Linked DNA regions of Homo sapiens. The protein of the gene in region 1 purifies or fractionates together with the protein of each later gene. This does not show direct contact. Each region holds a gene or a part of one and is shown on either strand. Other genes may lie near its edges.

Region 1 (3,500 bases):
AAGAATGGAGGGAAAGTAGCTAAAAGAAGACTAGCTATGTGTATTCAGTTGTTGAAATATATGCAACAGGTATATTATTCTATATTTGTAGAATTTGAAATTTTTCATAATTTAAAAAAATAGAAAAAACTGCCCAAGTAATACTGAAACTCTTCTTTGATATAGTATATTCCAATATCATATAACCTCACACCTGGAAAATTGTTCCTAATATAATAAACCAGAATTTCCCAGTTTTAATTTGTACCTTTAATGAACTCTGAAAATTTGACAGTTATGCTAATGTTCTACATTAAAATTGTTTCTCTCAATTTGTAGTTGTTAAAGGCAATTATTCTAATAGTTTTTTGGGTTTGACTGACATAGACAGATACAGAGCTTGGTGCTCTGCAGAAGATCCATCTTAAATTATTCTTTCTTGTAGGAAAAATTGTTTCTTTGAAAAACTGTTATTTTAAGGTTCAGAATTACAGTGAATTCAATATTAATAAAAAGTACTGTTTTAAAAAAAAATCTTTATTTTTTTTCTGAATAGGAAGACAGACAGTTGAACAATCAAAAAAAGCCAGCACTGAAAAAATTAACTTTACTGCCTGCTGTAGTTATGCACCTTAAGAAGTAAGTATTTTGTTTTCTTTAAAATGTCTTTTTCCTTTTCATGGAATGATAATTCAAATGATGTACTGGTGTTCTAGGAATATTAAATAATGATAGACTTCTATCGGTTCACAGAAAGATAATGAATAAAATTTCCTAAATTATATTTCTTCATAAATTTTTATTAAGCCTTGATGCCTGGTGCAAACAGAACAAATAAAAAATTGATACTAACGAAAGAAAAACTTGGAAACTACTAATTTTGTGTTTTTTTGTTTTGTTTTTGTTTTTTTGGTAAAGACAGGATCTTGCTATGTTGCCCAGGCTTGTCTTGAACTCCTGGGCTTAAGTAATCCTCCCACCTCATCCTCTCAAAGTGCTGGAATTACAGACATGAGCCACTGCACCTGGCCACTAATTTTGTTCTTTATAGACAGTTTTTGGTCTGGTAAAATTGCATCTGTTTTCTCCGTGTGATGGAAAATAGTAAATCTTGGAAGATCCTACCTGAAGGCTGCATTGTACAAGGCTTATATGACTCTAATGTGTCACAATTATTGATCCTTCTGAAGTAATGATGCCCTTTTTGAGTAGATCCTTGTTTCTAACTTTTTTCATTGATTTGCTTTTTTTTTTTTTTTTTTTTTAATTAGAGACAGGATCTCGCTGTGTTGCCCAGGCTGGTCTCGAACTCCTGGGCTCAGCCGATCTTCCCGTCTCAACACCCCAAAGGCAAAGTACTGGAATGGGATTACAGGTGTGAGCCACCACACCGGGCCCTGATTTGCTTATATTTCTGAGCAACCTTGCTTTCTCTTTGAACTAAGCCACAGCCTACTTTTGATGACTGAGGAAATGTATTGGTGCATCAGTGAGCTGCCACCAGCATGGCCTAGAGCATCTGTAACTAGAAAATTTCTCCCTCTATTCTAACAGGGGAAACTATCTGTGGCAGGTTTTATGTATATAATGTTATCTTTTCTATTAACATAACTGATTCCAGTACATAAAATGGAATTTAAGTATTATTTTATTGAGTTTTTTTTTTTTTTTTTTGTCCTGCCAGTGGAGTGCTAGTCTCATTGGTGTCCTGCAGAGAAGAGCAAATCTGGGTTCACCACCATGTAAAACTGTTCAAGAATCACTATTTTGATAGATTGAACGTTTTTTTTTTTTAGTTGAAAAGATTGGAGTTAATTGTTCTTACTGTCTGTACCATTCATATCAGCATTAATTTATCTTGTGTAACTTGAGTTTGTTTTGTTTTCAGCAAATCATCTTTGTCAAGTATATGCATTTCTGGAAAATAAGAACTAAATGTCATACTGCTTTCGAAACCAGAATGGTGTTCAGTAAATGTCAAATTTATATGAGTAACGCTTTAAAAGCAGTTTTTAGAAACATCACTAAATATGTAAGAAAAGTCGGAAGATACAGTAGAACCAAGGTTCACAGAATTTTTAAAAATTATTGTTACTGCAGGCAGGACCTTAAAGAAACATTCATTGACAGTGGTGTGATGTCTGCCATCAAAGAATGGCTCTCACCTCTACCAGATAGGAGTTTGCCTGCACTCAAGATCCGGGAGGAGCTGCTGAAGATCCTGCAAGAGGTTAGAGGCAGATAATCTGACTGTTCTTTATTAATTATCTAATGTGGTCTGTATGGTCATAACCTGTGTAGTTTACAGTGTTTTTATATGTTATCTCTGCTACAGCCTGCCAGAAGAGGGGTTGGAAAAAAGGAACATATCTAATAAAATGAGCGTGAAAGGGAAGACCTTATAAAACTTCATGTAACTATCGCATTGAAGGGAAAAAATCTTAGAGTAGCTGTAATGTGTCTGAGAAGAGTAGTACAGTAGTGGGCAAGTTCCAGGGAGAAATGTGACGCAGAATGAACACCAAATTCAGAATCATATGAACTTGCATTTGAATCTTGAGCTGGGCCACCTTACGTAGTTGTGACACCTTGGGTAAGCTATTTAACTTCTGAAGGAATTCCCAAGGAAACCTCCTATGCCACGCACTGTGCCAGGTGCTTTATATATGTATTGATTCGTTTTTTCCTCACAGTAAACTGAGAAGGTAGGTGTATTATTTCCATTTTACAGATGAGGGAATTAAGATGCAGAGAAGTTAAACGACTCGTCAAGGTCACATAGCTAGAAGGTGGCTGTGCTTGGGTTCAGTCTTAGGTCTATTGGATTCTGAGGCCTGTGCTGGCTCCTGTATTAAACTGCTAACCTCTGAGTACGCTTGGTTCATACTTTCTCACATTGTTAGGTTTTACTTCAACTCAGCTGTAATACTGAGCTCTCAACCTCTTTTTGTTTTTTTTTTTTTTGAGACGGAGTTTTGCTTCTGGTGCCCAGGCTGGAGTGCAGTGGCACCACCTCGGCTCACTTCAACCTCCGCTTCCTAGGTTCAAGCGATTCTCCTGCCTCAGCCTCCCGAGTAGCTGGGATTACAGGCGCCTGCCTCCACACCTGGCTAATTTTTGTATTTTTAGTAGAGATGGGTTTCACCACATGTTGGCCAGGCTGGTCTTGAACTCTTGACCTCAGGTGATCCACCCGCCTCAGCCTCCCAAAGTGCTGGGATTACAGGCGTGAGCCACCATGCCTGGCCTGAACTCTGAACTTTTGATGTGGACACAAAGTATCTTTGTGTTCTATGTCTGTAGATCCTGAAAATGGAATTTTTTATTTGTTCTGTTGTGAATGTGCCAGGTCTCTAGAATAGACTAGCAAGACCCCCAGCTTCCGAGTGATTAATATGTGTGTATGTGTTTATGTTCCCCAGCTGCCTAGTGTGAGCCAGGAGACCCTGAAGCATAGTGGGATTGGACGAGCAGTGATGTATCTCTATAAACACCCCAAGGAGTCAAGGTCTAACAAGGAC
Region 2 (3,500 bases), on another chromosome or scaffold:
CCCAAAGTGTTGGGATTACAGGCATGAGCCACTGCACCCGGCCTAGAGCAGTATTTCTGTATTGATGTTTTTTAGGAATTTAACATCCCCTTTCCAGTTTTCATTGTTAGCCTCAGAATACTTAGAAAGTTCCTTTCTAACCTGTACTCCCACTGTCTCCCAGGTGCCTGAGCCCTGGTGCTTGTGCAGGGCCCCCAATCCAGGCTCTGCCCCATCCCAATAGCCCTGTCCTGCCCTGAAACTGCCCTTGAGCTGGGCTTTTGTGTCTGTGGAGGCGGGGACTGTCATCCTCTCTGCCTCGTCTCTGTTAGACAGCACAATTCGATGTCAGCCCGCCACCTGACGTTGTGTATCTGTCATCCTCTCTGCCTCATCTCTGTCAGACGGCACTGATTCGATGTCAGCCCGCCACCTGACGTTGTGTATCTGTTTGCTTAACCAACCCTGGCATATGTGATCATTCTAGTCCCTTGACCTCCAAATTTTCATTCCTATGCGAAGACCTGGCATCGAGATTTGTGGTTGGAGAGGCAGGAGGCAGGCGTGTGTCCCCACAGTAGCCAGCTGTGAAGGATTTGGCCCTTTTGCCTCTGAGTATCCAGGGAATGGCCAGGGCTCCTGGGGAACTCAGCGACTGGACTTTCGGGCCCAGAACCCAGGAGGGCAGGCGTAGGGACGGGATGGCATCAGGGAGGTGGCAGTCGAAAGGACCCGAGTGGGCAGAGGAATGTGAATAGCCCCACCCCACGCACAAGCTCAGCAGCTCTGCGGGGCCACTGGTTTAGCGGCAGTTCTTGACATCAGCGTCAGCATCTGAGGTTGATAATTTTCTTAGGAGCTTGCTTGTGTTAATCCTACTAATAATTTACAAAATCCTAAGTCACTTGACTATTATGCCCATATTTTTGCCTTTTGCCATTTCTTCCTTTCCATCAGCTCCAGAGCCCCTTCCTGTCAGCTCCTCTGAGCCTTTTTGACAGGGCAGGCCGCTCCCCGCCCCTCCGCAAAGACTTTTTAATATTCTTTTATATGCTTTGACGTTTCTTGCCCACTGTATTCGAGGAGTTTCCCCATTTCCACCCGGAAGTCCGTCCTTGCTGATGTAACACCATGTCAGGTGTGGCTTGTTTTCCCGAGGAGCCTGGTGGCCACAGCCTCAGCTTCAGCCACTTCCTGGTTCTCGGTGGCCAGTCCCCACAGACTGTGAGACCTATGCTTGCTAATGTTAACTAAGAAGAGAATCTGAAAGTATTTACTTCAGAAACCTCCTTTTTGCTAGTTAGCGCCAGAGTGAGTAGATTAATCAGGGCAAAAGAGAATGAGAGGTGCTGTTAGTGTGTTACAGGGAAAAGTCACCCGAAGGCAGAATGATAGGATCGAATGGGGACATGCCCAGGATAGGCCCCAGTGGTGGGTACTGTGGTTTGCATGGAGGTAGCTGGAGGTCCGCTTAGAAATTCTGCATCAGCACTGGGTCTGGTTTTTGTTTTTTTGTTTTTGAGACGGTCTGGCTCGGTCGCCCAGGCTTAAGTGCAGTAGTGTGGTCTCAGCTCACCACAGTCTTGACTTCCTGGGCTCAAGCTATCCTCCCACTTCAGCCTTCTGAGTAGCCGGGACTACGGGCGCACACCCCCACACCTGTCTAACTTTTGTATGTTTTGTAGAGACAGGGTCTTCCTATGTTGCCCAGGCTGGTGTCAGACTCCTAGGCTCAAGAGACCCTCCTGCCAAGACCTCCCGAAGTGCTGGAATTGCAGGCATTAGCCACACAGCGCCTAGCCTGGTCTGTTTACAGAGTCAGCAAATTCTGGCCTTTAGGCTACCCAGCCTTGTTTGTACATGAAGTTTTATTGAAACATGGTCACGCCCACACGGTCAGAGTTGGGTTTCGTCCCCGTGGCCCGTAATGCCTAAAATAGTGACTCTGGCGCTTTAAGAAACAGTTTGGGAACTCCTGCCTGAAGGAGAATCGGAAACAGCACTGAAGATGTTACTGAGGTTTAAATGCGACCCAAACAGAAAGGGCTTCGGGGCGGTTGGTGTCCGTCTGATTAACCTGCTGTCTGCTGGTTACATGTGGATTAGAATCTTAAACTGTTACGCTTGGCAAGATGAATGACTACAACTTTTCATTATTATTTTTTGTAAATTATGCATTTTCACTTGTAGAAATCTCTTTCCTTGTGGAGACTCAATGGTTTGCATTATTGATGATCGAGAAGATGTCTGGAAGTTTGCCCCCAATCTGATAACTGTGAAGAAATATGTATACTTCCAGGGCACGGGTGATATGAATGCGCCCCCTGGGTCCCGAGAATCTCAGACGAGAAAGAAAGGTGGGTAACCTCCTTCCTGATTCTCTAGAAGAATTCACATTTGCTTATTGTTTAGCTCTTCTTATTTCTTATCTCTGTTTTGACTGCTATAAATTCAAGATACACTTTTTTTATTTGTGTTTCAGTAGAGATTATTGGATTTATTTATAGAGTACTGAAAAACAGGATATTAGGTTGTTTCAATTTGGGCTTTAAAAAAAATGGCCCTCACTTAAGCGTTTTCCCAGTTGAATAAAAACTAGAGGATGCTGTTTAACCTAACACATCCGAATAACTCCCTTCATCCCAGTTTTCCTTAAACACATCCCTGGGTATTGGGCCATAGTGTTCTGTAGAGAGAGTGAATGTGGGGGCGGTGGCTCTGCGGGGAATAACCGTTCCCCATGCGCAGTGGTCAGGCTGGGCGCTGGCTGGGGCCCCAGAGAGCAGCGTGGTTTAACTTGTCAGTCAGGCATGCAGCTGACGTCCACCCTACGAAAGTTAAGTGTTTTTTGATCTTTAGTTTTTTGAAAAATATTTTGAGGCACACGTTTATTGCTGTAGTCACTAAAATGGAACTTGGAGGTTAGGACCAGGGGAGGGTGAAACTAGGGGCATTCCTGTAGAAGGTAGAGACTTTCACCAGATGGGTGGGGTCAGCGTGGAGTTGCTGACTTCCTCCAGACCGTGGCTTGGGAAACCGTGGCCATGGTGGTGCCAGGTCATCCGGGGCTTACAGTCACGGTGGCGCCAGGTCTGCAGGGGCTTACGGCCACGGTGGCGCCAGGTCTGCAGGGGCTTACGGCCACGGTGGCGCCAGGTCTGCAGGGGCTTACGGCCACGGTGGCGCCAGGTCTGCAGGGGCTTACGGCCACGGTGGTGCCAGGTCTGCAGGGGCTTACGGCCACGGTGGCGCCAGGTCGTCAGGGGCTTACGGCCACGGTGGCGCCAGGTCTGCAGGGGCTTACGGTCACGGTGGCGCCAGGTCTGCAGCCCGGAAACCTCTAGTTGTCCTTACAGGTGGAGGATCCCTCCTCCCCCAAATCCAAAGCTTTTTGAGTGCCCACATGGTGCTTAAAGGAAATACTCATTAGGGTATTTTGGATTTTTTGGATTGGGGATGTTCAGCTGGTAAGTTTAACGCAAATACTCCAAACTCAGAAAAAAATTCAATATCCAAAACGT

Evidence for each region. Proteins that work in one complex are often made in the same cells at the same time.
Region 2: the proteins of IWS1 (region 1) and CTDP1 purify together in Homo sapiens (affinity purification with mass spectrometry; one large-scale study listed by BioGRID and IntAct). This does not show direct contact.

The regions. Positions count from the first base shown.
Region 1 is NC_000002.12:127,491,990-127,495,489, reverse strand, and holds part of IWS1 (protein IWS1 homolog), read left to right. Parts: intron 1-535; coding exon 536-618; intron 619-2,079; coding exon 2,080-2,209; intron 2,210-3,401; coding exon 3,402-3,500.
Region 2 is NC_000018.10:79,710,803-79,714,302, forward strand, and holds part of CTDP1 (RNA polymerase II subunit A C-terminal domain phosphatase), read left to right. Parts: intron 1-2,169; coding exon 2,170-2,336; intron 2,337-3,500. UniProt on the Homo sapiens protein: Processively dephosphorylates 'Ser-2' and 'Ser-5' of the heptad repeats YSPTSPS in the C-terminal domain of the largest RNA polymerase II subunit. This promotes the activity of RNA polymerase II.